3 separate regions of the Homo sapiens genome follow, and all the other regions are reported to be linked to region 1. Evidence: microRNA targets listed by miRTarBase, many of them from high-throughput screens and not tested one by one. Region 1 holds a microRNA gene; each other region holds the end of a gene's coding sequence.

Region 1 (10,232 bases):
GTAGAAGGGGCCTTTTAAGAGATCGAGGCACCGTAAAGAGAAGCCCCAGCTTTTGAGTTTCGCACAGCCTTTCTTTGCACATACGAGCCCTAAGATCCCACCATGCCTCTGCTAGAATCACAGTCCTGAGGGCAGGGCCTCACGCTATCAAGATCAGCCTCCCATCTTCCTGTCTCTGTCCCCAACATGATGAAAAAGCTCCTAAAGGGGAGCAGTCTACAGTTAGATAATAATCCTCACAATGGTTACAGTGGGTTATGCACACACATGCATTTAAGTGTGCACATGCGTGCACAGACACCCTCCCAGATTTGCCTCCCCACCTAACTTCTGACTCCCACAAACTAGGGCACATAGTCCCTAGAGACTCAAAGGGGAAAGGACGAGAAAAAAAAAAAAGTAACAGAGTCAAGGGGGATACACACAAAAATACAACCAGAGTCACAGTCATAAATGCAACCACAGTCAGACCAGCAGAAAAAGGCTAGAGATGTTGTAGTAATGTTCCACCATCAATCCTTAAATTCCTTCTAGCTCTCTGCCATGAGGAATCATTGCAATATCCTTACCTACTGTTGTTTTAGAAGAATGTGTCCCTAAATTAAGACTGCATACCACCTAGGCGGACTCCTACCCCTTGGTCCCTCTGACCTCCAGCCTTGGAAAGCAAGAAACCAAGCCAGGGGGGCTTCAGAGGCAGCCTGGCAGAGGCCTGAAAGTTCTTTCAAGAACTCCTAGGAATGAATATTCTCAACACATAGAAGACCCTCCAAGGCACCCTACACACTAACCCACAAAGCAGCCAACTCCCTAGAAAGCTCAGCAAACCATAGAGTTCCACACAACTTATGGTCGGACGGTTACCCAGTTGTCGGATTCAAAACCCTACCTCTCCTCCAAGGAGGCCAGGACAAAACACCAAGCAATGGACCTCACCTTCATTCACGTCAGGAAACCACAAGAAGTATTTGAAAAAGGAAGCAAAAGGACGGGACGCAGGAGGGGACTTCCTGCCCCACTATACACAGCACCGCTCGTTCAAACCACTCAAGGGGCCCTTTCCCGGGGGCACCAAAGCGCAGAAGGCAGAGGGACCAGTTTGGAGGAGATCACAAACTCAGAGGAGCCAGGTTACAGACAAGCAGCCCTCCTCCCAGGCCATACCCCAATACCAGGCATGCTTCAGTAGCGTCCTCGAGGGGACTCCGTCAGGGATGCACAAGGACCACTCACCTCCTACCTCCGCCGGACTTCATCTCCCCTCTCCGCCCACTCCCACCTCACGTACTCGGCCCCCAGTCGCCTCTACACCCCGAACCTCTCCGGTGTTTCGGTCTCCCCCGGCAAAATCCTTCTTCCTGCCCCTCGGCCCTCAACCTGCGCCTCCCAAACGGCGGCGCCCGCGTCCCCTGCTCTGTTCCGCCTCCTTCGCTGCGGCGCCCGCCCCCGCCCCGCCTCTCCGGTCTCCGCTCCGTAACTGCTCAGCTCTGCTCCGGCTCCCCGGCGCGGCCCCTCACCCGGGTGGAGCCGATGTCCATCATCACCTCCTCGAAGGCCGCCGTCTCCTCGGCCTGACGCTGCTTCTGCAGCGCAATCTTCTCACTAAATTTGCGCGGATTGGAAGCCGAGGCCGTGGCCGAACCAGGCCCGTTCGCCCCCGACGTCGCCATCTTCCTTCCCCGTCCCTCCCTGCCACCCTCCCAGTACCAGCCGCGGCCTCCGCCGCGGCCTCGGCCCGGCTCCTCCAGCCGTAGCCACCGCCGCCTCAGCGAGCACCGCGAACCCGGCCCCAGCCTAGCCCTGACCTGTTGCGCGCGGGGGCCGCCGGGAATTGTAGTTTGTTTACGAGACTCCTTCACATCCCCAGTCACGCAGCACTAGGAGGAAACGGACTCCACTTCCCAGCAGCCCTGCTGACTCCGGAAACTGGGGACTTGGCTCCACCCTCTCGGCTACTCCCTGAGAGGTGCAAGCTGGGAAGAGTAGTTCTAAATTAGCCCTGAGACTACGAACGGAAAGGAGAGAGGGATTGAAGAGAGAAGAAAGGAAGAGGGAGGGGAGGGAAGAGAAGGGAAGCCGAGGGGTGGAGACCGGGAAAGAAGTACCAAGACACAAAGGAGGAAAAATTAGGTCATCTTCAGGGAAGGGGACTATCGGGTCCTGAGTGAAAACAGTGAGACCAAGAATCTTAAAACAGCTGTAAACATCTGGGACTCAGGCCCTCTCAGGCTGGCCACATGCCCACCCCTTTCCCAAAACAAACGAATCAGATACTGTACAGATGTCTAGAAACATCTTTTATTTGGGTAACAGGTCCCAAAACAGGTCAGTTAATAAAATAGATTCTAAAGAATATGTCCCTATGCACAGCCCTCCCTCCCCAAAAATAACGCTGGGGGTAGGCATTGCCCTTCCCCCTTGGGCTCCTCGGGTGTATTTAAAAAAATGTTTTGGCAGCTCAGTGTTTATCATCTGGGCATGGGACACCATGTCCATGTCCCCATATTCCTAGGGTACAGCAGCAGTAGATGGCTGCAACAACCTTCCTCCTACCCCAGCCCAGAAAATATTTCTGCCCCACCCCAGGATCCGGGACCAAAATAAAGAGCAAGCAGGCCCCCTTCACTGAGGTGCTGGGTAGGGCTCAGTGCCACATTACTGTGCTTTGAGAAAGAGGAAGGGGATTTGTTTGGCACTTTAAAAATAGAGGAGTAAGCAGGACTGGAGAGGCCAGAGAAGATACCAAAATTGGCAGGGAGAGACCATTTGGCGCCAGTCCCCTAGGAGATGGGAGGAGGGAGATAGGTATGAGGGTAGGCGCTAAGAAGAGTAGGAGGGGTCCACTCCAAGTGGCAGGGTGCTGAAATGGGCTAGGACCAACAGGACACTGACTCTAGGTTTATGACCTGTCCATACCCGTTCCACAGCAGCTGGGTACCCACCTCCAGCCTCCCATGTGAGCCTGTCCTTATGTATAGTGTCCAACCTCTGATTCTAGCAGTCAAGTGTCTTCCCCAATCCTAATGTCCCCTGATATGTCTCTAGCGACTTGACCATCTCTTGTTCCTTGGGACTGGGGCCAGCCTCTTGTCTGCCCACTTCCCTCTCATTAGTCAGATAGCCCCAAAGGCTCTATCTTTAGCTCCCAGAGAACTTTTTGGTCCTCAGTATTTCCCTTCCCCTTTCCTTCCTATTCCCCACAACTGGGGGAGGGAAGGGAGAACAGGGGCACCTGATCATCAATCTCCCCTGCCCCTCTCTTGAAGCCCCCTAGATTTGGATGAAGAGCAGGCCAGTGAGCAGGGCAAAGCCTGCTAGGAGCAGAATGACCTTGAGGATCCTTTGCTCAGAACTGGCCAGCTCCTGGGGCAGGATTTCCAGAAAGGTGATATAGAGAAAGGTGCCAGCTGCCATGCCCTCTAGCACAGACTGGGCCAGCTGGTGCAGAGGTCCTGCCGACTCTGCCAGAGCTGCACCCAGCCCGATGCCTAGAGGTGTCATGCATGAGAAGAGGATCCCACAGCCAGCCACCACCTGTGCCCTAAGGTGGCTCTGCAACAGCCGCAGGGACAGGCTGACAGCCAGGATGCCCTTGTGGAGCAGCAAAGCCAGGCACAGCTCCATGGCCCGAGCCCGGTCTCGCTGCAGCCCTACCGCCAGCCCCTCGAACACGGAGTGGAGGGCCAGGGAGAACACCAGTACACAGGCACGCAAGGCTGAGGGGGTTGCTGGGGCTCCACTCGCCTGTGGGACCCCTGGCCCATCATGCCAATGCTGCGGCCCACCATTCACTGTTCCCAGCAGAGCCCTTGTTTCCTCCAGAGGTGACGGCCCTGACTGCTCCTTGTAAGCCAGTGTGATCTGCTCCATCACCAGGACCAGGAAGAAGCCCATGGCCAGGATGAACTCTTGCAGTGGGAACTGGAGCTGTGGGCAGAAGCAGCAGCAAAATGTTCAGGGAAGGAAGAGTGAGATGCAAAATCTGGTGAAAGCCCAGTTACACAGACCTAGGGTCTGACACAGACACAGGGCTACTCTCAGTCACACAAAGATAGAGTGAATTGGTAACACTGACACAGAATGATACGTACACACAGATTATGGTGTCACTCACAGTGTTACGTGTAGACCAAAGTTTCTCAGCTTTGGAACTATTAACATTTTGGGGCCAGGGGCAGTGGCTCATGCCTATAATCCCAGCACTTTGGAAGACCAAAGTGGGAAGATCACTTGAGGTCAGGAGTTTGAGACCAGCCTGGCCAACATGGTGAAACCCTGTCTCTACTAAAAATACAAAAATTGGCAGGGTGTGGTGGTGGATGCCTGTAATCCCAGCTACTCAGGAGTCTGAGCCAGGAGAATCACTTGAACCCAGGAGCCAGAGATTGCAGTGAGTCGAGATTGTGCCACTGCACTCCAGCCTGGGCAACAGAGCAAGACTCTTTCTCAAAAACAAAACAAAACAAAAACAAACAAACAAAAACATTTTGGGCCAGATAATTCTTTGTCATGGGAGCTGTCTTGTGCACTGTAGATTGTTTAACAGCATTTCTGATCTCTACTTACCAGATGCCAATAGCAGGCACAATGTTCCCTCCATCCCCCTCCCCATTGTGACAACTAAAAATATCCCCAGACATTACCAAATGTTTCCTGAGGGGCAAAGCCACACTCCTAGTTGAGAGTCACTGATGTAGACATACATGAAAAGGTCACACATTGCCCATCTCCCCAAATACTCATACATAGAGCCACATATCACAGGACATTCAGGCTTATACGCAGTCACACGGAAACACAGGTCACTCAGTCACAGACACACAAAGGGATACATCCAGTGTTACTTCCTCAGTTTTAGAGGAAAAAAGGAAAGAGCCCAGGATGACTTTCCTGCCCCACTATCCAACGGCCTCAGTTTTTCCTATAATAAACCAAGTCCTATGCCGTGGACTTGATCATTCCTCACAGCCCACTTCCTTGGGCCAAAGCCTAAAAAGGTTAGCAACACCAAGACCCAGGGAATCGCTTCCTATCCTTCTCAGGCCTACAGAGACCTCTATCTCCAGCCCTTTAGGAAAGTGGTGAGAGAGTGAAGATGATTCTTGGAGCACTTGCTGGTAGCTAGAACTGAGAACCCATAGAGCAAGTCACACACCTGAGAAAAAGTGTCTTACTGTCTCAACGGGAATGTAGGGGTCACACAGGGAATGGGGAAGGGGGAGGGAACACATAGAAAGAATTATGCCCCATAACCAAAAATCACAATTCATACCACATGCCAAAAGTCTTCCACACAGTCATGGAGTGGCACATGAATCAATCTCCACAAACCAACACTCCCAGAGGTGTGTGATTCCCCTCCCGCAAGTCACATGCCCAGGCCAGTGCTCACCGTCACGTGCAAGGCTGCCAGGGCCTCATCTATGGCAGCCAGGTAGTCAGGCAGCAGGTCCAGGAGACAAGTGGCCAAAAAGACGCCCCCCGCGAAACAGCTTACTAGGCTCAGGGCTTTCTGGCGGGAAGCTGGGTAGGGGTGAAGCACAGAGGGGAATAAGCAAACAAACCCCCTCCAGGGCCGACCACCCCAACCCAAACAATGGCTACCCTTGCCTTTCCCTCCTCCTTTGGTCACTCCCCGCCAGCCCCAGAGCCCTCCCTAAGCCAAGCATTCATAGCAGTGTGGGGAAAAGGAGAGGCTTACCTGAGCCTTCATGGTTAGCTCCTGGCCGGCGCAGCACACAGATGGGCACCAGGCTGCAGAGGAGGGTGAGCACCAGCAGCAGCACCAGGGCCCCCAACTTCACCTCCAGCCCCACAGGCACTGGAGGCTCTGAAGCTACCGCCTCGGGGCGCCACACCAGGAGCTCTGGCTCTCCCCAGGGCCCCATGATGCTTCTGGTAGCTCCAGTGACTCTCAGACCTAGGAAGACAGACCAGAGTGGTTGGGAAAAATCATGCAAAGGAAGATGGGGCAAGGAATGGGGAAGCTTGGTCAGCAGAGTGCAGCTCCCTGGCCCCAGCCACTTTGTGACCTTCCCCTACCCAGGGTGACTCATCTACTCCTGTACCAGGAACATTCCTCTCTTCTCACACTTTCTTTCCCAAGTGACTTATTCAGGGAGACTGCACGGGGGAAACCGAGGCATGAGAAAGGCTGTATGGATATCTCATCACCCTTTCACCTGGTGCCCCCAGAAAACTAGGAAACTAGGAGCCGCCTCCAAATAGGACCTGGAGCTGGAGTTCCCCTAAGGAATGTAGAGGCCGGGTCCCCAACTCCCGAACGGAGTGGGTGAAGCCAAAAAGGCTAGGGCTGTGCAGAGATGTCTTGGGTAGCTTCGTGGGCCACCTGGACAGGGTAAGTTTGGGTGCTGGATCGCTCCATCGTTCCCCTTTTCCCAGCGCAGAGAACAAGCGCTTCAGGCCCCAGGATGGGACCTAGAGGCAGATGGCCAAAGAGAGGGGCCCTAAGAGTCTGCGGTCCCGGGACGGACTGAGGCGACACTGAGGGCGGTGCCTGAAAGTCCGGGCTCCAGGAGGCGGGGTGCGAGGCCGCCAAGCGTCGCGGGAAGCAGATGAAGAATGCGTGAGCTGGGACTCCTGTTCCCGGGCCCGGGGAGGCCTGGGCAGCCGACATGGACCCCGCTGCCAGACAGCCCGCACTCACCTCGCGAGGGTCTCACTACATGGTCTCCGCGCGCTTCCGGCCTAGAGTCGGGAATTCCCGCCCCCTCCCATAGCTCCCCCCTCCCCCACAGGAGCCGCGTACCCACGACCGACTGCCAATGGCAGCACCGAGTGGGCGGGGACAGACCGGGAGTGACGTCAGTTAGGAGCAATCAGAGATCGGGAGCGGGAGCGGGCGGAGCAGGCGACCTGAGGAGAGTGAGCGAGAGCAAGAGCGGATATTAGGAAAAGGACCTCGGGGCTGGGGCCCTGGGGCGCATCTGTGGAGGACTGAGGGGCCGGAGCGGGCCAGTCAACAAAGGCTTTGATTATATGGATATTTTTAAAAGAGGGAGACCCCGCATTGTCAAGTCTTCCGGCCCACATCTGAAAACATCTTCCTGGCCTTGGGCCAAAGTCTCATCTGTCCCTCAGAAGGCTCTGACACCTCGTCAGTGCCTCTTGGCGCCCAAGGGAAAGCATTCCCCTCTTGGGACCAACTTCCTTGACTGCTTTCCCTCACCAGCACCCACAACAAGGAAAAAGACAAGGCAGAATTGGAAAGGGGGGAAAGCAAAGAGAGGGTATGTCTTGAAAATCATCCCTTCTCGACTACTTATGGCACTCAGTGCAGCCTCCGCCTTCTCCAGGTGGGTGGGGACGTGGTGGGACCGGAATGCGGGGTGCTGAAGCCGCGCCCAGGGAAGAGCCCCCAGCGCATTCCAGGATATCTGCGTACCGCGCCTGCGGGCGTCTGGCCGGTTCTCCCACCTGATTTCCAGCCCAGCTCCCGCCACCCTCGCCGGTCGGTTTGCTGTTTGCTGTTCCTTGAATGCCCCAAGGTAGTTGTTTCAGCTCAGGACTTTCACCGTTTCCTCAACCTGGATTCTTGTGGCCCACAACTCTGTGCCTTGAGAATCCTCTTCTAGCCTCAAGGGACGGTAAGACAAAAGAAAATTTAAAAAGGGGGCTCAGCTGTTCTTTTATGCAAAGGTGAAAAAAGCTTCATTGCCTAAAGAAGGGACAGATGGGATCTTGCTTCCTACAGGAAAATTAATTTTAAAAAAGAAAAAAAAAAGGGGGGACAGTGTAATGCTTCTCACAAGGCTCCAGAAACGAAGCCCAGTAATTCCTTAAGTAAAAGAGGAATGTGAAGACTTCTTAAGGGGCCGGGCGCGGTGGTTCACGCCTGTAATCCAAGCACTTTGGAAGGCCGAGGATGAATCACCTGAGGACAGAAGTTCAAGACCAGCCTGGTCAACATGGTGAAACCCCGTCTCTACTAAATATACAAAAATTAGCCGGGCGTGGTGGCGGGGGCCTGTAATCCCAGCTACTCGGGAGGCCGAGGCAGGAGAATCGCTTGAACCCGGGAGCCGGAAATTGCAGTGAGCCGAGATCGCGCCATTGCGCTCCAGCCTGGGCAACAACAGCGAAACTTCGTCTCAAAAAAAAAAATTATTCGTAATTGGTAACATTAACAAGGAATTATGACTGGGGGGGTCAGGAAACCTGGATTCTGGTCCAAGTTCTACCTTTATAGTTGTCAAATATATATATTTGTTTATTTATACACATACATATGTCATATATGATTAATAATTGTATATATTTATGGTGTACAACATGATGTTTTGAAATATATGTACATTGGGCCGGGCGCGGTGGCTCACGCCTGTAATCCCAGCACTTTGGGAAGCCGAGGCGGGCAGATGACGAGGTCAGGAGTTGGAGACCAGCCTGCTCAACATGGTGAAACCCTGTCTCTACTAAAAATACAAAAATTAGCCAGGCGTGGTGGCGCATGCCTATGATCCCAGCTACTCAGGAGGCTGAGGCAGGAGAATCGCTTGAACCGGGGAGGCGGAGGTTGCAGTGAGCCAAGATCACACCTCTGCACTCCAGCCTGGACGACACAGCGAGACTCCGTCTCAAAAAAAAAGAAAAAAGAAAAGAAATATATGTACATTGCAGAATGGGTAAATCAAGCTAATTAACATATGCATTACTTCACATATTTATTTGTGATGAGAACATTTAAAATCTCTTGGCAACTTTATTTCTTTTCTTTTTCCTTCCTTCCTTCCTTTCTTCTTTCCTCCTTTCTTTCTTGACAGAGTCTTGCTGTGTTGCCCAGGCTGGAATGCAGTGGCATGCTCTTGGCTCACTACAACTTCTGCCTCCCAGGTTTCAAGCAATTCTCCCGCCTCGGCCTCCCGAGTAGCTGGGATTACAGGCGCCCGCCACCACGCCCGGCTAATTTTTGTATTTTTAGTAGAGACGGGATTTCACCATGTTGACCAGGCTGGTCTTGAACTCCTGACCTCAGGTGATCCACCCGCTTCAGCCTCCCAAAGTGCTGGGACTGCAGGTGTGAGCCACCACACCCGGCCCAATAGATCTCCTCAATTTTACCTTACCTTGATGTATGATTTTAGGCAAGTCAGTTTTCCTCACCAGAGTTTGATAAATCAGGGGCAAGGAGGAAGTTAAACAAGCAGATGACTGCAGAGGGTCCTTCCAGTTCTAACATCAACGGAAGCTAACTACATTCCCCACTCAAATCATCTCTGCACATACAGCCCGCAGGAAGCCCTTTGAAATGTATTTAACCACCTTTCTCGCTCTCAGAATGATCTCAACAAGAACAGCTTTGCTTTCCTTGGAGCTCTGCATCAATCTAGGAAGGCTGCTTTGTCTCTTCACTACTTGAGCAGGATGGAGAGATATGAGCGGGAAAGACAGATAAGAAATCTGAGAAAGCCCCACAAGGTGGGTTGATAGTGTGAAGAACATGGGCTGAAGCATCCAAATCTTGGTTCAGCTACTTACAGGGTAACCTTGAGAAAGTTACTTAAACTTGTCAGCTCGGACGGGCGTGGTGGCTCACGCCTGTAATCCCAGCACATTGGGAGGCCGAGGTGGACGGATCACGAGGTCAGATCGAGACCACCCTGGCTAACACGGTGAAACCCTGTCTCTACTAAAAATACAAAAAAATTAGCTGGGCGCCTGTAGTCCCAGCTACTAGGGAGGCTGAGGCAGGAGAATGGCGTGAACCCGGGAGGCGGAGCTTGCAGTGAGCCGAGATCGAGCCTCTGCACTCCAGCCTGGGCCACAGAGCAAAAGAAAAACAAACAAACAAACTTGTCAGCTCCATCTGCTGTAAGAATTATATGAGTAACATGGAAATGCCTGACTAGACCCTGTTCCCGTTTTTACCCTTAGCCCGTTCAAATCTTCATAAGGATAATTAGTAGCAGTTTGAGTTCTGGGATTCACACTCCAAACTACTGTTTTACTCACCCAGCTACCCTTTTCTGAAATACTACTGAAAACCATACCTGTATCAGTTTACCTCCATTGTTTTACTTGAAGTGAATTCCTGGACCATCAGACATTAGACCAAGGCAAAAAAATAAAAATAATCAATCAACCCTGAGTTTTGGTATTACTACTTTCTAGTCATGGATCTGCCTCCTCATAGGTAAAATTTGCAAAATATTACCCGCCGTGTGTGCCTCAGAACTGTTATGGATTAAGGAAGAGAACAATTTTTATGAAAA
Region 2 (10,232 bases), not on the chromosome of region 1:
GGCCTCAGGAAACTTACGATCATGGCAGACGGTGAAGGGGAAGCAAGCACTTTCTTCTCATGGTGGCAGGAGAGAGAGAGAGATAGAGAGACAGAAAGACAGAGACAGAGGGAGGGAGAGAGGGAGAGAGGGAGTGGAGAGGGGGGATGGAGGGGGGAGAGAGAGGGAAAGAAGGAGAGAGGGGAAGAGGGAGAGGGAGGGAGGGAAGGAGAGAGGGAGGGGGAGGGAGAGAGGCGGGAGGGAGAGAGAGAGAGAGGTGCCACACACTTTTAGATAGGGAGAGGGAGGGAGAGGGAGGGAGGGGGAGGGAGGGGGAGGGAGGCGGAGGGAGGGAGAGAGAGGGAGAGGTGCCACACACTTTTAAATAACCAGATCTCGTGAGAACTCACTCACTATCATGAGAACAGCAAGGGGGAAATCCAGTCCCATGATATAATCACTTTCTACCAGGTCCCTCGCTGACAGGTGGGGATTACAATTTGACATGAGATTTGGGAGGGGACATAGAGCCAAACCATATCACAGCTATGCAGGCTTATAAAAACATTAGGATGTGGGCTGGGTGTGGTGGCACACACCTATAATCCCAGCACATTGGGAGGCCAAGGTGGAAGGATCACTTGAGCCCAGGAATTCGAGATCAACCTGGGCAACATAGTGAGACTCCCCGTCTCTACAAAAATTTTTTTTAAATTACCTGAGTGTGGTGGTGTGCACCTGTATTCCCAGCTACTCATAAGAGTGAGGTGGGAGGACTGCTTGAGCCTGGAAGGTTGAGGCTGCAGTGAGTCAAGATCCCATCACTGCACTCCAGCCTGGGCGATAGAGGGAGATCCTGTCTCAAAAAAGAAAAAAAAATTAGGATAAGCACTTTCAGAAAAAGCTTCAGAAAAAAGGGCAGGTTCTTCTTTAGGCCAGGTGCAAAGGTGTGACTTCCCAGAAGAAACGGGAAGACCAAAAAAAAAAATGGCCAATGTATTTTTCTCCAGATGAGGTATTTGTGTATGGATATTCTGAAGAAAGGGTTTTCTTTTTCCCCCTAGCAGTTGTTTGCTGTCACATGCCAGCAAACATGGCATGTCACAGCAGTTTGCTGTGACTAGCCAGCAGAGCCCTAGAGGAACTGCAGGACGTGGTCACCACTGTCTGTGTTAGTCCAGGGAACCAGCAGAGCTCTTCTGCTTCTGAAGCCTACTTGAGTTAATGAAAATCCTAGGGACCCTGCTGAACCCAATTCATTGCTGAGAGCCATGAAAAATAGCTCCATAAATCTGCCTCTGAAGAAAAGGTCAGGCTTCCCAGGTTGGGGTAAACAAATTGAGGATTTCAAAGCAACCTGTTAGCTACTCACGCCAATTTGCATACAAAGCCAACAAACAACCTCCCATTGTTAAAGAAGATGGTGAAGGATGTTCGGGTTTTATTGTCCAACTATGGTGACTGTCACAGTCCAGTCCCTTGAAAGAGTTACCTCGCAACCTGCTTCACAATCAAATGTCAGGACAGGGAAATGACCCTTGACATTTACCAAGCCCAGATGGACAGACGATCCCCCCCGGCAGGCCGCCTCCTAAACCAGCCGCACCTTCTTGCTCTGTCCAGGCTGTGAAATTGGTGACCAGATGCCTCCACTTCAAGCGTGTTAAATGCTACACCAGGTTTAGCAGAGAGAACACGATTTCTGACTTCCAGCCAAGGCGTTTGCATTTTAAAATGTCCACAACAGTGTTCCTTTTAAAGAGGGAGATTTTCTCTTTTCCACGTTTATTCAATTTTTAGTAAGCACCACTGGAGGGGGATGAAGAGAGCTTGGTTAGTAGGTACCAATAGATAGTTTGACAGAAAAAAAAAATAAGACCTAGTGTTTGACAGATCAGTGGGGTGACTATAGTTTACAATAATCTATTACATATTTCAAAATAACTAGAAGAGAATAATCCAGATGTTTCTAGTATACAACAAAGACAAATATTTAAAGTGATAGATACCCAGCTATACTGCTTTGATCTGTACAAATTACATGAATGTATTAAATTATCACATGTGCCCCCAAATTATGTATATCGATCGTGTATCAATTTTTTAAAATCTAACACATTAAAGAAAAAAGCAGGAAGCAGGTTGATACTGGTTTGAGCCAGGACTCAGAAAATATAAAGATATGTATAATATTTTAAGATAAATAAATAAATAAAAGGAACACAGGACACTAGAAAAAATAGTGTATAAGGATTGTGAAGTCAAGAATGACCTCCCCTTCTCTTCCGCTCCTGCCACCCCTGCCCAACATATACATTCTTTTTTCAAAATTTATCTTTGCACTTTGGGAGGCTCTGGAGGGAGGTTCACTTGAGGCCAGGAGTTTGAGACCAGTGCGGACAGCAAAGTGAGAGCCTCACCTCTACAAAAAAAATTTTTTTTAATTAGCTGGGCATGGTGGTGCACAGCTGTGGTCCCAGTTACTCAGGAGGCTGAGGCGGGAGGATTGTTTGAACCCAGGAGTTTGAGACCAGCCTGGAGACTCCCTCTACCAAAAAAATGAGATAAGGCCAGGCGTGGTGGCATGTGCCTGTAGTCCCAGCTACTCGGAGGCTGAAGCAGGAGGATCACTGAGTCCAGGAGTTCAAGGCTGCAGTGAGCTATGATCCCACCACTGCACTCCAGCCTGACCTACAGGCTGGGCTTACGAAAATAAGTAATTTTTGTAAAAGAACACTATATAATAATGTGATAAAATAAATAAATATAGGCCGGGCTCATGCCTGTAATCTCAGCACTTTGAGAGGCCAAGGCAGGTGAATCACCTGAGATCAGGAGTTCGGGACCAACCTGACCAACAGGGAGAAACCCCGTCTCTACTAAAAATACAAAATTAGCCGGGCATGGTGGCACATGCCTGTAATCCCAGCTCCTCAGGAGTTTGAGGCAGGATAATCGTTCAAACCTGGGAGGCAGAGGTTGCAGTGAGCCGAGATCGCACCATTGCACTCCAGCATGGGCAACAAGAGCGAAACTCCGTCTCAAAAAAAAAAAAAAAAAAAAGAAAAATATAAAAGTGTGAATTATAAAACTGCAATGGATGCACAAGAGCTATTTGGATTTTGAAGTTAAAGGTAAACTTTTCATGAAGACGCTAAGTGTTTGTGAAGGGAAGGGAATTTATAACTTGGTGTGTCCTTGAATGAAAGAGGCAGGGAGCTATTTGTTGCTTTTATTACAGCTTCTGGGCAGAGGTTCATTTCCATGAGAAGAAAAGAGAATTTGCCAAAGTTGCCCTGGTATAGCAGGGCCTGTCAAGCCATTGAGGATGAAATACTAAATCAGGTAGCGTATTCCAGGTTCTCAACATTTTTGATCAACAAAACTCTCAGTGGCTTGTTCTTAACTCCTTGGAGAGACAATGGTGGAAATTTTGGATTATCTTTAAATACTAAAATGAAAGTACAACTCTTAGTTCAAAGGAGAATAGTGATACACTTCTGGGTGAGAATTAGTCCTTAAATGAGCTTAGAGCCTGCACCAAATATAAAAGGTAGACTCAGATATTTGACCTTAGCAATGTTTCGTTAATGTTCAGGCCCATTGGAATTTTTTCTCAACTTCCTTCACTAGCAATTTGTTTTCCTTTAGGCTCTCCAGACAAAAATTATAAATCTGTAAAGCAATCAGTTAGGATAGAGAAATGAAAGAGAAAGACAACATTTATTTACTAAAAACCAGAAACAGGTGCCTGAAAACAAAAGGTCTTAATCTGTCCTTCATCTAATTCTCTCCTTTGGATTTTGGAAATGTACAAAGGTTATTGATCACAGCTCCTGCCCACGGGGAGTTCACAGTTTAATCCCCAAATCCAGGTGAGAAAGGCCCTCATTTACCAAGGCAACTGTGAATTAAAGCTATGGTATCAAAACCACATCCACTAAATTTAGGGGGAAAAAAACACTCCACCGTGAACTTGTAACACTTAAAAAGTAAGAAACTTGCTTTGAGAAGTGTGGTGTTTTTCCACTGTCCTCATCGGTTCCCTAGGGAAATTCCAAGGGGAAGAAACCGGGGATAAAGAGCTTTTTGTATTTCTCTTGGTTTTAACTGCTAAAACAATTTTTGTTCCATTAGGTTTGTAATGTGAGATCTTTCAGAGTGAATTGACACAACAGCCTCTGAGTTTATTAATTCATCACAACTTAGTCTTCATGTGTCTAAAAACAAATTGCTGACTTCTTGCAAGTTCCAAATGTACTTATGCAATGCCTTGAAAATTGTTAAATGTAAAGTTATTCCAGGATTACGAAGTCTATTCAATTAGCATGGCATACACACACACACACACACACACACACAGCATGCATAGTTTTCAGCTGATCTTTCCTGAGTTCTATTCAGATTTAGTCCAACATCAATCTAATCTGCAAGATACAGGGAGCTAAACACCATTTGAAATTGCCCCTGAGAGGTCAGCGGGCCATTAGCTCCTAGATAGAATGAATTTCCTAAAAGTCTTGAGGAATGACAAATGCCTTGAGATATTATCTCACTGCTTACCCAAGTTATCTCCCCAGATTGCTTATCAATGCCTTTCCTGTTACCCTTTTCATATTCAAAGAATGGGAAAAGTTTGCAGAAGTTTGGCTGATAGGTCTTCCCTAGCAATAAATACTCTGAAATTCTAAAAAAGCACATCCCTTGGAAAATTGCTGCCTTGCTGGAAGAAGTAAATCCCCAACTGGTTAATCTCAGCTCTGCCACCTTCCTGATTCTATCCTCAAATTCCTGGAATGGCAGACAAATGAATTACACCACCACGCTGCAAAACAGTGCAGTGTTAGCAGATTAACAAGGACATGTTCAGAGTGTAAAATGTACTCCAAATAAAGAGTTGCCAAAATTTGAGAGTTGAATTTCGTCATTCTATGGGATCTCTAATTCCCCAAAAAAATCAATGATCTGCTTTTTTTGAGGCAGCAGATAGAGTCATATTGACAGGATGAATTGGGTAGAGGGAAGGGGAGTCAGTTGGGATCTGGAGCAGTCAATTTTTCTATTATAAATGTTGGTATCTGGAGCATTTAATTTTTCTATTATAAATGTTGGTATCTGGAGCATTTAATTTTTCTATTATAACTGTGACCCACAGAGTAACTAAATTAATTTCATCCAGGGTAATTAAATGATTTTTAACTCACTCCTCCACTTCCAAATTCACAAAGTTCTAAAAACTAGTTCTAGAAGTATTTGTATTTTGTTGGGAGCACCCGTGGGGCAGGCTGTAATCGATTGTGGCATTGAGAATCAATTGTTGAGAATGAACCAATCAGACATAAGCCACGCAAACAATATGGACACATTATCTGCTACCTATCAAATCCATTGATTTTCTCAATGGTTTGACCATTCGGAGCAGCTGAAACTCCAAGGGAACTTCATTCTATCAAATACTAGAAACTCAAGTAAGTTTATATGATTAAAACATTCTCATCAGTAGCCATCTGTATTATTCCAGAAGGAAACAATTACAAATGAACCTATTTAATAGGCATGAGAGGCCAAAAATAATAAATTGAAAATGAATATTTAAAATGCCATATCCAGTCTGCAGGTGACTGGCAAGTCTCAAGTATGCAAAGATCTTAAATATTAAAAAGCAATATTAATGTACGGTACAAATAATGGGCACAAGTTCTCAGATTTTAAGGAATATTATGTGGGCACAGTTTATGCAAGAATGTTGTGTATATGAATGAAAATAGCTACAATGTCTCTTCACAATAATCCTACAAGGTGTTACTACGGCCCCCATTCCACAGGCAACCACAGGCAACAAAAGTGAATATTCAAAGAGCTTACATAATTTGCCGAAGTTCGCACAGCTGTGGAGGTTTAAAGACATTTGAGCTGAGAGGCAGAGAAGAGGACCAATTAGAGGCTGTAAGGGAAAAAAAAAGCTATCCCGGCCCCAAAAGAGCCAGTTCCCTAGTCATGATACTAGATGCCACTGCTTTCAAGCTTTTAGCCTATAATCAACCCATATTGAAACCAGATTTATGAGCTCTTCAGAGGAAAGCTTTGTGATTTTCTAAAGCAGACATGTTTGGTATTTTATAAGGTCAAACCCCCTACGGTGTAGTGTTTTTAATAAAATCAGTTCAGCAGAAATTAGAGACACACCAGTCAATTTCTAGGAAGCCTCTAAGCCATTCAAAATAAAAGGAAAAAAAAATAACATAAAAGACATAACCATGCACAGATCAATTTTTTCAACAGTGGTAGAATGTAAGGAGTTGTAGATAGAAAATCATCTTGGCAAATTTGGTCCCATGTCTCTAGTTTGGGCAAATTTCCACTCAGAAAGGAAAATTCCTTTTGGGGGGAGTTCTATGACAATATTAAGCAAGGGTTGTTCCTGGTTAGCCTGGCCTTGTGACACCTCAGAGTAACAGTAAACATCTCTAAGACGGAAAAACAAATAAACCAGTCACCACCACTTCTGACATCACTGAATCAGGTAGACCCTGGACCTTATCTTAGTCCTTAATCTCTGGCTCCTGGCAACTTCTGCACTCTCACAGGGAAGCAAAAGTAAAATCTATATGTAGTTCTTAGTTACATCCAAAGTTGAGGTGCCTGCAGTATTTTCATAAGAAGGCGGATCTGACTTTCAGATTGGTGGTGAGGACACGTGTAAAAACTAAATGAATATCAAGAGAGAGGATTTTTTTAGGAAAAGAGGCAGGGCTGGCCTATTATGTGGCTAGAAGCGGAGCCCCAGAAAACTGAGAGGCCATGGGCACAGTGCCACCTCCCCACAGTACAGGGAGCTGTAAATAGCCTCGTGAATATACAATAGGAAGAACAAAGGCCCAAGATCAAGTGGAGAGGCTGCATGCATCCTCCATGAAGTTTGTGGTAACACCAGTCCAGACATAGGCCTCTCTGGGAGGAAGGGGTTCACTGATTTCAAAGTGTTTCAAAGCACATGACTTTAAATCCTTCATTGTTTTATTTCCTAAAGAATTGCAGAGTTCCTGGTTAACCTGTACTTGGAAAAAATGAGGTGAACCGGCCCTCATCAGGGCAAGCAGAGAAAAGAAACTCTGACTACGTAACAGATATAAAAACTGGCCACTTGAAGAATTGCTGAGCTTGCATAATGTCGTACATGAAATGAGAATGTACAAGGAGCAAGAAGTCCTTTCATCTCTAAACTACAATCTACTATAATGTGATCAAGAGCCAGAGTGGGGTTGGGCAGAGTGGCTCACACCTTAATCCCAGCACTTTAGGAGGCTGAGGCAGGAGGATCACTTGAGGTCAGGAGTTTGGGACCAGCCTGGCCAACATGGTGAAAACCCTGTCTCTACTAAAAATACAGAAATTAGCCAGGCATGGTGGTGGGTGGCTGTAATCCCAGCTGCTTCAGAGGCTGAGGCAGGAGAATCGCTTGAACCCGCGGCGGGGCAGGGGGCAGGGTGGTGTGCACCACGTGTGGTGTGTGGCGAGTGGGGTGGAGGTTGTAGTGATACATATGGCGCCACCGGACTCCAGCCCGGGCGACAGAGTGAGACTCAAAGAGCCAGAGGTGGAGGTGAGGGTGGAAATTTCACCAACAGACAACTTTGATCAATTCCCTTGACAGGTTTGAAGGGTTGGGTTCAACAATTCTTTGGCTTCCTCAAAAACTGACATACATAAAGCTTAACATCTTTTATAAAATATAAGGCATGCATGCAAGAGCTGCTCATCTTAAAAGGGACAGTACGAATGCTATCATTTATTAATATGTGTTTATTCCACAGCTTAGTTTTTTGGGGCAGGTGGTCTATTAATATTAATAAAAGAAAACCCCATACTCGAATATGCAGGCTGTAATTTTTTTTTTTTGAGATGGAGTCTCCCTCTGTTGCCCAGGCTGGAGTGCAGTGGCACAATCTCAGCTTACAACCTCTGCCTCCTGGGTTCAAGCAATTCTCCTGCCTCAGCCTCCCGAGTAGCTGGGACTACAGATGCACGCCACCACGCCCAGCTAATTTTTGCATTTTTAGTAGAGACAGGGTTTCACTATGTTGGCCAGGCTGGTCTTGAACTCCTTACCTTGTGATCCACCTGCCTCGGCCTCCCAAAGTGCTAGGATTACAGGTGTGAGCCACCGCGCCCGGCCTACGGGTTAACTTTTAAGCAAAAATTTCACATATACAAAGGAATTCAGAAGATACCCTCCATGGCATAATATTCTCACATTTAAAATAAGAAAGATCCACTGGGGGCACGGGAAGTACACAAATAAAGCATACGTTTAAATTCAGGATGGGCAATGTTATCAGGACAAAAAGTCTTATAAGAGGAAACATTGTTTCCTAGCTGTATTAGTTACTGGCTAAAGCCAATGTTCTATTTGGTTACATAAAGGATCATTTGGGAGGATGAAACCTAGTAGCAGTTATTTAAATCAATTGGTGTATCGTGTTCACTACAGAAAAGCTTTCTAAGTATTAAAAAAAAAAAAAGCATCACACTGTTGAAGCACAAGGTTTAAAATTAAGTGTGTTGTACAGTAAGGTTTGGCTAATTGGGGAGCCAAAATACTTAATTTGGCTTAGGACAAAATAAACTGGCCAATTAATCAACAGTAAAAGGAGACAGTGACTGACTTGAACAAAAAAACAGTTGTTTAGTTGGTTTTTTTTTCTTTTTTGGGTGGAGGTATACACATTGGAAAAGGTATTCCGGAACACCTGGATCAAAATGACCTTTGCTAGGTCAACTCCAGAAATTGATCAATCATATCTGACCTGGTACACATAAATTCCAGATCTCCTTCTTAGATGAAAGCTAAAACCAGAGTTATCCTATAGCCAGAATGTGGGTAAGACACTAAAAGATGGTCAGTATACATTTAGAAACTCCACACTGTAAGAAAATTACACAGGCACATGGAAGAATAAGCAAGATCTTGGTCTTGTTTAAAAAAGAAAAGAGAAAAAAAAAAACCAAGCCACATCCTAGAGTTGAGAACAAATTATTAACAGCAAATGGCCATTTGTATAATTAACATGTACTGTCTCACGTTTCCCAGTTAAATTTATGAAAGACACTATTAAATTTCAGACAAAATATATATATTTCTTTTAAATCTTTACAATAAATCAAGATGTAGAAGCTTACATAGGGCACATTTTTGTTTATTTAGGTACTCAATTCCAGCTCCCTTGGATGCAAATAACCCTGGTGACAGTGTGTACAAAGTCTTCTCTTTGCTTTTTATAATTTTAAAAGCAAATAACACATTTAACTGTATTTAAGTCTGTGCAAATAATCCTTCAGAAGAAATATCCAAGATTCTGTTTGCAGAGGTCATTTTGTCTCTCAAAGATGATTAAATGAGTTTGTCTTCAGATAAAGTGCTCCTGTCCAGCAGAACTCAAAAGGCCTTCAAGCTGTTCAGTAAGTGTAGTTCAGATAAGACTCCGTCATACGAATTCCAGCTTCCCGTGCCCACTGTACATGCCCCAGTGAACAAGCGAGAGGATCTTATCGTTGCTGAGGTCTGCTTGTCTCATTTTATCACAGGTCAGACAGCAGTTCTCGTGCCCACTGACCGGCACCATGCATTCCAAGTCTAACTTTGCAACCTGCCCCTTTTTGGAATGGTGTCCGTGAAAGCTGTAGTGCAAACGGGAGAGCATCTGTTGCCGCTGATCCTGCAGCCTCTTATTTTCACTTCGAAGCATCCTCAGGGCCAACATAATAAGCAACACTAAAATCAGCCCTCCAGCAATGGGCACGGCAATGACCGCTGCCCGGAACCACAACTCTTTGGAAGAAGTCAGCTCCTGCACCTTGGTGATAAGGTTTCTGCTACCATCATGCTGATACCTGTTTCCTTGTCCTAAAGGAGTACAAAGAAAATGATCAAACTCCATGCTAACTCCTCCTAGGGATATTCATAATCATCAATTCATTTTAACCAAGAATTCCATTAAAAAGAAGCTTACAATTAAATCAACGATATTTAGAAAACATTGCAAAACTATCTGAAGAAGCTTACAAACGCATTTGTTTACAGACTGTCATTACTGAGATGTAATGGCCTTTTAATGTCTTCAAAATGTTGAAAAAACAGGCAAAACCTATTATGTAGACAGACATCTAATGCTCAGACATAAAAGCCACTCAATCAAGATGCATCTTTGCATCCAGCCAGGCTTCTCCCTCTGGTGTCTCTAATTACATTAACA
Region 3 (10,232 bases), not on the chromosome of region 1:
TTACTACATCATCATCTGGCACCTGACATCACATTCATTTTAGCTAAACTTAACTGATAAGACATGAGTGTTTGAAGAGCAAGATTCATCTGTAGACTTTACATATACAATACTCTTTTGGGGAAAATAAGAATATAAAGAATTAACCTTGAAATTAAGAACTCTTGCATTTCCCTCTAGTGCCTTTCTTGAACTTTTAAATTCATATTTTTAATTAAAAATTTCTTGATCTAGGCTAGGCATGGTGGCTCACACCTGTAATCCCAGCACTTTGGGAGGCTGAAGTGGGCATATCACATCCTGGCTAACAGGGTGAAAACCTGTCTGTACTAAAAATACAAAAAATTGGCCAGGCATGGTGGCAGGCGCCTGTAGTCCCAGCTACTCGGGAGGCTGAGGCAGGAGAATGGCGTGAACCCGGGAGGCAGAGCTTGCTGTGAGCCGAGATCATGTCACTGCACTCCAGCCTGGGCGACAGAGCAAGACTCCGTCTCAAAAAAAAAAAAAAAATTTATTGCTCTGTTCAAAAAATGGAGTCATTTTTTAAACACATGGAGCAGTAACCCATAATGAGGTATAATAGACCTAACCATGAAACACAGAAAACTTAACCATGTTCTACTTCTGCTTTGTATATAGTGATCACCAGCAGCTTGCAAAACTTATCCAGGAGTCGCCAACCGTTGAACTGAAAGACAAGTTGGAGTGTGAATTGGAGGCATTAGTGGGAAGGATGGAAGCAAAAGCCAACCAAATAACTAAAGTTCGAAAATACCAAGCCCAGGTAACTCAGTTTTCCTTCACTCAAGTTTCTAATGATTAAGAAAAAAAAAACACTTTAATTCAAATATTAAATGATGACACTAAGTGTATCATAGATAAATATCTACAGGAGATACTTCTTTACTGAAGACATTTGTTCATTGAGAATTGGTAAGTGGATTAAGAAAGAAGACACTTTTAGTCACTTAGCATATTCATCTAAGAAACATCTTTCAAATACTGAATATATTTAATATTCTTTATGAATAAGCTTTAACTTCTTTGATGAATTTAAATTGGAGTTTATCCAAGTAAGTTTTTTTAAAAGCACCTGCGAAATTCTGTTTCCAAAGGAATAAGTCATACATTAAATATGTGAAATATATTTATGTTGCTAATCATTTTATATCAGCCAACAATGTAGTACTACCAGATGCAGTGGTGACATCACACTCAAGGGTTTTCAACCAGAGAGAAACATGATTCATATATTTAAGAGATTACTGTAGTGACTAGGGGTAGGGTAATGGGATCAAGGCAGAGAGGCTGAGAGATCAGCTATAGATGTATCAGAGGTGGTCAGCAAGACAGTAGTTGGGTTTGGGCAGAGGTAAACAGATTTGAGGTATGTTTTGGAAGTAAAAAAAATATTGGGGTTACTTGCTGCTGGGTATCATGTAGAAGGAGAGGGAGTTAGGATGGTGATTCCACTGACTAAAATGGAGAAAGCTGAGAAGTTCAGAGAGCAGAACAGTTTTGTTGACTGTTGATTGGTAGCCATATGATAGACACACAGTGCCAAGTGCTCTGAGTATATCTTCTCATTTAATTTTCACAAAAGGCTTCTGAGGTGGGTATATTCTCATATTATAGATGAGGTAGATGCTAAGCCACATTTTCTGGGAAGTATGCATATATCCTCAGTGAAATTAAATAACTTGCCCAAGTACCAGCTTACTGGGAAATGGCAGAGCTGGGATGAAACTAGCCTTTTCAACTCTAAAACTTTGGCTGTTTTTTCAAAGTTCATGTATGAAAAAGAAATACAAGCAAATTATTCCTGTAGGAGTAAGGAGTAATGGTCTAATTTGTTGCTTATACTAATTAGACTTATTCTATTGGAACACCAACATGCCAGCATCAGTTTGGCTAAAGTAAAAATAAAGCTCCCGTATTTAAAATTATTCTAAAAATAATGGAACAAAAATAAAATTCTTTTCATAGTATTAATACATTACCAATTACATCTGTTCATCCATCTGGAAATTGCTTCTTTGCCTCCTCAGACTAGTTTCTAGAATATCTTTCTCCTCTTCTCCCATTTGTGAAAATCCTTCCCATTCTTCTTTTCTCTGTGTCTGATTTTTTGCCTCCTTCATGAGTCTTTCCTTCAACTCCCCTTGTTTCTCACTCGCCCTGTTCTGTACTTTGGCAATATTGCCTTAATTTAGGACAACCAGAATTTGTTTACTCATGTCTACTTGTTTGTGTATTGTTTTATATATATATAAGCATATATTTATTTATATTAATATTTAAGTGTTAAATGACTAGTGCAGTAGATTTTGAAGTCTTTAAAAGAAAGCCTAGAATGTATTATTTTTCAGTTAGCATGAGAGTTAACCAAAAAAAGGTACTCTTGTACTTTTTGTTGTCAGAAAAAAAATATTTTCATTAAATTCTCCTTTTCCTTCCTGCCTTGGTTATTTGGTATAGCTGGAGAAACAGAAGTTAGAGAAGCAGAAGAAGGAATTAAAAGCTACCAAAAAGACTCTTGATGAAGAAAGAAACAGCAGCAGCCGTTCTGGAATCACAGGGACCACAAATAAGAAAGATTTTATGAAACTGAGACCTGGAGAAAAAAGGAGAAAAAATCTTCAGTTATTGAAGGACATGCAAAGCATACAGAATTCATTACAAAGCAGTAGTTTGTGTTGGGATTACTGACTCATAACCAGGTCAGAAATTTTATTCAGATAATCTGTACCTCATCAATCAGATGATGACAATTTACTTCCCAGGTCTCATACTCACTTATGTTGGAATTAATTAATAGCAGGTGTTAAAGGACCCAGGCTTCATTACACAGGCTTTTCATGTATGCAGGATGACTCAATGTTAAAGCATTTAAATGGAAACCAGGGGAGTTTTAAAGCCCGAGAAACCACACATAATCTTTTGTTGAGATGAGTTTGCTGTACTGACGCTGCACTTTGTAAACAGATTACCAGTTTTTTACTTGTGGGTGTGATTTTTTAAAATAGTTCTTTATATATAATTAAAATTAGGTTTAAATTTTCAAAATATGAGACTATGCTATAGGCAGTGCTTGCTTGAAAAGTCTCATTTTTAAATCTCCCTGGCATGAGGTGCCCACTTCCCCTTTCCAAAGCAACCATTAAACATACTTTGTTTCTACTATTGGTGGAGTTTTTCTATATTTAAAAATACATATATATTTCAGAGGATTTTTATTTTGCTTTTTGGCATTTCAGACTTTGATCAGTGTTAAGTGCACTTGTATTGCTTTTTAATCTGTTAATTTTTTAAAGACCCAAGCAGTCATTTTGAGTTATATCTATAAAAATTATAAAAGGATTTTTGAAAGTATAAACAAATTGTCAGTGAAATAAATGAGATTTTGGAATAAAGTGAGAATGGGAGAAGGGATATGTTGTGAGCATATACCTTCACAGTTCTTAATACCTGTTTTGTAATCATGATATTCAGTCAAGGCATTATGGTTTTTAATCTTGAAACTTAGAGAACCCTTTGAATATTTGCTTTTACTGGTGTACAGTATGAGTGGAATATAAACTGTACACATAATTATCATGTTGATATAAATCATAATTTCAACTAGATCAAGACATGTTAACCTTTTATAAATTTAAAGTCAATAAAGCACCTTTTTAAAGGAAACACTGCAACTTTCCTTAACAGCCTGTTAATAAAGGCTTTGTGACAAGCTCTCAAAAAATGCATTTCTAAATAGGAGGACATCAATGTATTGATGAAGAGAAAAAACTAGTACTTAGTTGCCACACTCATGCTTACATAGAAAGAGAGCCCAAGAATATTAGATTTCCTCATGATACAAGATACTACAGTAACAGGCTTTAATTTAGGATCCTTAAGATTTTGGGGTATTATTTGTGACTCTCCTGAAATTGTAAACTTGTGCTTCTGTGTCCAGTTTTCTAATGAGTAGGTTCGTAGCTTGATTGAATTAATAATTGTGAGCCCATAGACACAAGGGAAGTGAGAAACAGTGCTCTGGTGACATGATAAATATATGTGTCAACCACCATTTCAGCTATTAAAAACTCCTGTTATCTCCTTGTTTGAATTTCAGGTCATTAAATTGTATAACCATCATTTGAATTGTAGTGGCTCTGAGTCCTAATTAGGAGAATGGTGATTGAATGATGCTAAATCCCACCCCTTTTCTCAGCTAGGATTCAAACTGAACTACTCCAGCTTTTTGTACTGTCAGGTGAGAAGTGAAAAAATACTGCTTCCATTTTCTTATCTGCAAGTTTACAGTAGAGGAATGTGTCATCCATCCACTTACGTTGTAACAGAGCTTTATTGCAATTCATTTCAAATAAGGTTATGTTTACAGACTTGTGGTAGACATGTGAATTGTTCATTCCAATATAATGTGAATTGCAGTGGTAGTAGCGGTATACACAGTGCTATGGGGGCACAGAGGAAGGTGGGGATGTCAGAGAAGGCAGTCGTGAATCAGATAACTTCCCAAAGGAAGAGATGATGCCTAAACTCTAGAAAATAGGAATTAGTCACAAGGGAGAACAGTTGTTCCAGGTGCACAAGACAGACTGAACCAAAGTGGGGAGGCAGGAATCTGCAGATTACATGAGGCAATTGTGAACAGCAGAGTAGCATTGGTACGTAAAAGTTGAGGTATGCAGAGACTAGGTCGAAGGAGGCTAAGGAGCTTCAACTTAATCATACTGGTCTCTAAATTTTGTAACCCTAATCAAAAAGGGAAAAAATTACACCTGCACAACCAATAGACATACAAAGTTATGAAACATGTAACTGTCAATTCAAATATTTAAAAGTTTTGCTTGTGTAAATATATAAAAAGGGCTAGTATTCCTCCTCCCTCCCTCCCACACACACCAGTGGTATATATTAAATGCCCAAGTGCATGTACTCCATATTGGAGACTTCTGCAGAAGGTGAGGGGAACCACTGGAAGGTTCTCAGCAGAGAAGTGGTAGGGTTGCACTTAGATTTCCCTGGCTTTTGATTTGAATTTGAAGTGGATGCAAGTATGTTAAGACTAGAAGCTTTAAATTCTTGATCTCTTCAGCCATTCTACATTCTTTTATGTGGTATCAGGCCAAGATAACCAAGGTTTAAATGAGGAAAATGGCAGATGCGTTTGTGAAATACTTGGAGTAGAAAGCTTAATTTTTAATTACTGATTTGCTAGCCACTTAAATGCCCTGTTAAAAAGCTTATATTTCACACAATTACCAAAGAAATCATTTTGGTACCAATTTTGCTAAATTGGATATACTAATAGAAACTTCCTCACTGCAAGACCAAGAGGGAGGCTAAGGTTCAGACTCTCTGTATAGTGAATTAGTGAGTGGAAAAACACTGTATATTTTAATTGTTTGATTTGGGTGTTGGTTAAGGAAAAATGGGTACAAACTGAACATTTTCATCTGGGGTGCATATTCCTCCAATAATTTCCAAATATTTCTGGGGAAAAAAAAGAAATGGCAACTTTGGACAAGAACAAAGTTTAAAAGTCAGTTGGAATTTCTTTTAATTAAAAGACCAAGGGGACAAGAAGCTCCTTTGTTACAGTACATTACATATGGCTCTTATGTAGAATAAAATAGACATCAGAGTCAAATGTTTCTACCAGCACCAAACTCTTACTTGTAGCAGGTGAACAGTGAAGCAAGATTTCTTTTACTGGCTTTGAGATTGTAATACATCTTTTACATGCAGTGTGTTCTTTGGTAGACTTAATCGTTGAGTGAAATTACAGAATTTGCAAAGGAAAAAAATGTAAAATTTGAGCACAGTACTTCTCACTATAAGCTATTTATACAGAATTCAGAAAAAATGTCAATCCTAGTAAGATTTTTAAATACTTCTTAAAAACTTGCTAATTAGCTTCTGTGTGTTCAGACACACAAGACAAGTGAAATACACTGTAGTAAATAATTAGTTTTTAAAATATCTTTCATGATGTTTCTGGTAATTGGGCTAATCTGAAGGGCATGGAATTCTTTGAACTCCTGTATGGCTACTTTCTCCCCTTCATTTTCCCCCAAGCACATCTATAAGGCCTCCCATTTTGGATCAACTTGCTAATATGTCTTAAGTATGTAAATAATGACGGCAATAATTTTCAACTACTACCACACCGTAGTATCTTCAACACTTTGCCTTTTACTATATGAAGAATATGGAAGTTGAAAAGTGATCAAGGTAAATCAGTTACTGAAAAAAAGAAAAACCTAGAATGGAGAAAGGGATATCAAATGATTTTGATCTGTCATGACATCAAGGCCCAATATATGTGATGCCACAGAATTTCAGTGTTGGTTTGAAAACTGATGTTCCTCTGCACAGTGAGCACAGAGTGTATTTCTAAAATGGTTTTAATATTACCAGATGCCAAAAATTTGTAACAGCATTTGCCTTTTAATAGAAACTTGTTCCCACTGTGAATCCAGGATTGAAGTATTTTAATATTCTTTGGATACTTAAAAGATTAGTATCATAATCATGTAATTACATATGGAGTTACTTCACTTAAGCCACCTGCACTGCTACAGTTCTAAACTCATCCTAGAGAGATTTAAAATAAATAAAGTGACTGAACTTTCTCTCATAGATGGGTTCTAAATTCCGAAGACTTTCTACTCATAGAGCTGCCAGTGTAATCAAGAGTGTATAGCAATGATGCCCCTGATCTTACAGTCCTTTATACAACAGTTTGGACAGGAGTGACACACTGTGCAGGAGAGCTGGCTCTCTCTGAGGATGAGGTTGATCGGTTAGAAATCTCTCTCTGTAGTTCCTCTACTTTTTTCTGAAGCTCTGCTCGTTTAGCAAGAAGTTCTTTGTATCTGTTGTGAATAGGTTCCTGCAAGAGCAAAACATAAAATATTCAACTAGGCAATCCTGACCAAAGCCAGGTCAAATCATTCCCTAAATGTTGCAGTGTATGTTTTTTCAGCTGTTGGAACCAATGGCACCTTTCCAACCCATCAGTGAAATTAAATACCGGGACTGTGGACACCACTAATCTTTTCACTGGCTTTCCCAGTGCCCCTGAGTATTTCCAAAGAATAACCTGCTGTGTAGGTGCTCCTGAAACTGGTACTTTTCCAAATACAACAAATAATTAACAAGACAATTAAAAGACAGTAGTCAGAAGATTCCCTGTTATTTATAGGTTTTTAGTCTTAAACAGTTCTAAGTAGTTAATATTCCATAAACATATTCACAGTAGACCAGAATTTTGTTCAGCTTTTAACTTTCCTAAAGCTACTTTCTTCAGCTTATTAAAACAAGACCCCCTAGAGGTTATCCAGACAGAGGAGGGAAGATGCAAGAAAAGAGAGCAGTGATTTGTCCAATGTCATACAAGCAGTCCTAAGAACCAGGTATACTGATTACCCTGCCCCAGTGTAGTATTTTTCTACTATACGATTGTTAACTATCAATGGGTAAGGAGTAAAGTTTTAAATATGCACAGATAATCTTTCCAGCTGCTTTTAAGGAGACAAAGTTGCACTGCATGAATGAAAACTCCCATTGTATATTGTAAGGCACATACCTGTGGTTTCATCCGTGGATTCCACCTTATGTAATATCCCACCCAGAGCTCTAGGTGGCGCATGCTGGCTACTGGATAAAGGACATGATTGGAATAGCTCCCATAGAGAGGATTAGTGAAGTCTTCCAGCTGGCTGTTTATGTAAGACCACAGTGACACAGTCCTTTTAGGAAGATTCTGTAGGCAGGAAAAATAGGTAAAGATTCTCCACCACATAAGCCATTTACACTTTAGATGAAATTTGTGAAGAAGTACTTTGTTGTCATTAAAATCTCTTTAGAGGAAGTGGACTTGGAGACTTCAGTGATAAACCAACTTATATTAAGATCAGAGGGTACTGGAAAACAGTATGCAGTTCCTCAAAGAGATACCATATGACCCAACAATTCCACTCTTGTACATATCCAGCAAACAGAAGACATGTCTGTACAAAAACTTTTTTATAGATGTTCAAAGCAGCATTATTCATTAACAGCCAAGAAGTGGGAACAACCTAAAAGTCCATCAACTGACGAATGGATAAGTAAAATATATCCACACAATGGAATATTATTCAGCCATAAAAAGAAATGATATAAAATGTATGAACCTTGAAAGCATATTAAAGGAAAGGAGCTAGACACAAGGTTTACATATTAAATGATTCCATTTATATGAAATGTCCAGAAGAGGCAAATCTAGAGACAAAAACATTAGTGTTTGGCAGGGGTGAATGGGGAGTGACTATTAACAGGTTTTCTGAGGTGATGAAATGTTCTGAAATGAAAATGTGATGGCTGTACAACTCAGATATACTAAAAACCAGTCAACTATACACTATCAAAGTGAATTTCATGGTATGCATATTATTATCAATTTAAAAAGTTTTTTTAAAAATAATCAATGATTCCTACCCCAAGGCTCTCAAAAAATAAAACTCTTCGAAACTTAGCTATGCTATTTCTAATGAACATTCCTTAAGTTGTTGAGTGCCTGCTATGCATAGAAATACTTACTGCATGCTAGACACTGAAGACATAAGGTGAATTTAAAAATTTAATACCTGCCTTTAAGGAAGTCTAGGAAATACTACATAGCAGTTCTTGTGGTATTTTGTATTGCTTATTTAATAATCTTCATAATTTTACAAAAGCAGACATTAACTTCCCCAAGCGAACTGTTACAGTAAGTGATAGATCCAGGATTTGAACCCAGCAACTGGGCTTCAGTGCAAGTACTTATTCCTACTGTGCTTTATAAAATAAAACATAAATACTTTGTAACCACATTTTTTAGAATAAAAGTTGATGCAGAGGGAGATACCAATCAAGATGATTAAGATGTTGATACATAGGATAGACAAGTTTTGATAAAGAAGTAAAACTTGAAATGTAATCCTTACACCATTTCTTCTTAATACCAACCCCACTTAACAGTGATACCTTTGGGGAAAAGGGATAACGAAAAACTTTAACTTTCTACATACTATCTTTTCCGTATTTGAATTTTTTTATGGTATTACTTTACAACTTAAAAAACTCAAAAACTTAACCTAAAATGTCTCAATAAGTAGGATATACTTGGGAATTTGAGCTGCCTATTCACTCGAATATACATTTTCTGCTAATTAAATTTTTCTGCACCTGCTGTAAAGGATTTCCATTCTACATGGAAAAATTGGTACACTGGTGCTCCTTAGATTTCACGTACTTCAGTTCTCTTTAGCAGAAACCACTTCCCACTCATGAACTCAGCAGACAGCTAGCTAGCACCTTCAGCCTTGTGACAAAGATACTTCAGAATATATCAGGTCCAGATATATGGAAGGAAGCCCTCAATATTATAGCATGTAAGATAAAGTATGACCCAAAAGAATGACTTCAGTTGAAATCTGTCACAGAGTACATTCTTTTAGGGAAAAGTATACAGTAGAGATAGTATGGGGAAGGTCATGTTTCATATTTTACCTCTTTTCCTCTCTGTTGTTCACTATTACAGAGGAATGTTCCGAATAAGCAGCTGTATAGGTGGTCCAAAATGGTAATGAGAAAATACTCATTGAATTCAAATGCGGTAGGAAACTGCAAATCAAACATCACAAACACATAAATTAAGACATTCTTCAAGCATATTCATCCCTGTCATGGGTAGATCCTTTTGAGGTAGTATTTAAAATGAAGTTAAACATTCAAATCTACATTATTCCAAGCCATTATGGCATTATTCGTATGGTTTTCTTTTCAAAAATCATGTTATCACTTTTCTGATCATGATGTTTCTGTATCTGCTATATCTGCTAACCCTAAATTTGCAGGCTGAATTTTGACTTAGGCAATTCTGGCAACTCTAGGCATTCTCTGCCCAAAATGACCACAAACAACATTAAGATTCTTTAAATTTTCAAGAACATAGTTGTTTTTCTTTTTTAAGGATTACACACAAAATGCCAATAATGTCTCCAGAAAATGTCAGCAATACACAAAAGTAAACATCTAAGGCAGATAATTTACAAGTCAACCAACCTATTAAATATTTAGATGGTGCAAAAATAATTGCGGCTTTTGCCATTGAAATGGCAATTACTTTTGCACCGACGTAAACTTTTCAGGGAACATCCATCCCATCAAACCAGAGTCCCTTGTAAGCCACTATT

Evidence for each region. The annotated mature microRNA hsa-miR-6737-3p reads UCUGUGCUUCACCCCUACCCAG and lies in region 1 at 5,524-5,545, opposite strand. An mRNA with a match to its seed (bases 2 to 7 or 8) in the 3' UTR can be bound and repressed. Matches are read on the target gene's strand: a 7mer-m8 pairs with bases 2 to 8, a 7mer-A1 pairs with bases 2 to 7 and ends in A, and an 8mer does both.
Region 2: miRTarBase lists BAMBI as a target of hsa-miR-6737-3p. Seed matches in the 3' UTR shown: 7mer-A1 at 9,298-9,304.
Region 3: miRTarBase lists CEP57 as a target of hsa-miR-6737-3p. The part of its 3' UTR that is shown has no 7-base or 8-base seed match.

Annotation. Positions count from the first base shown.
Region 1 is chr1:153,956,828-153,967,059 of GRCh38, forward strand. MIR6737 (microRNA 6737) reads right to left here and starts at 5,593; the gene lies at 5,524-5,593. It overlaps CRTC2 (CREB regulated transcription coactivator 2), which reads right to left and starts at 1,785. Exons shown (of 14, transcript NM_181715.3): 1 at 1,518-1,785. The coding sequence starts at 1,670. SLC39A1 (solute carrier family 39 member 1) reads right to left here and starts at 6,710. Exons shown (of 4, transcript NM_001271958.2): 1 at 6,668-6,710; 2 at 5,702-5,920; 3 at 5,393-5,523; 4 at 2,283-3,927. The coding sequence starts at 5,888. The coding sequence ends at 3,271. RefSeq lists enhancers at 975-1,194, 1,205-1,254, 1,815-2,014, 5,994-6,948, 6,277-6,346 and 5 more and a silencer at 1,415-1,564.
Region 2 is chr10:28,681,634-28,691,865 of GRCh38, reverse strand. BAMBI (BMP and activin membrane bound inhibitor) reads right to left here. Exons shown (of 3, transcript NM_012342.3): 3 at 8,934-9,883. The coding sequence ends at 9,465. Among named protein-coding and RNA genes, the nearest start is that of BAMBI, 9.2 kb to the right of the region's middle. RefSeq lists an enhancer at 7,083-7,991.
Region 3 is chr11:95,828,548-95,838,779 of GRCh38, forward strand. It overlaps CEP57 (centrosomal protein 57), which reads left to right. Exons shown (of 11, transcript NM_014679.5): 10 at 640-784; 11 at 2,479-4,146. The coding sequence ends at 2,709. It overlaps MTMR2 (myotubularin related protein 2), which reads right to left. Exons shown (of 15, transcript NM_016156.6): 13 at 9,547-9,660; 14 at 7,601-7,777; 15 at 4,333-6,904. The coding sequence ends at 6,743. Among named protein-coding and RNA genes, the nearest start is that of CEP57, 43 kb to the left of the region's middle.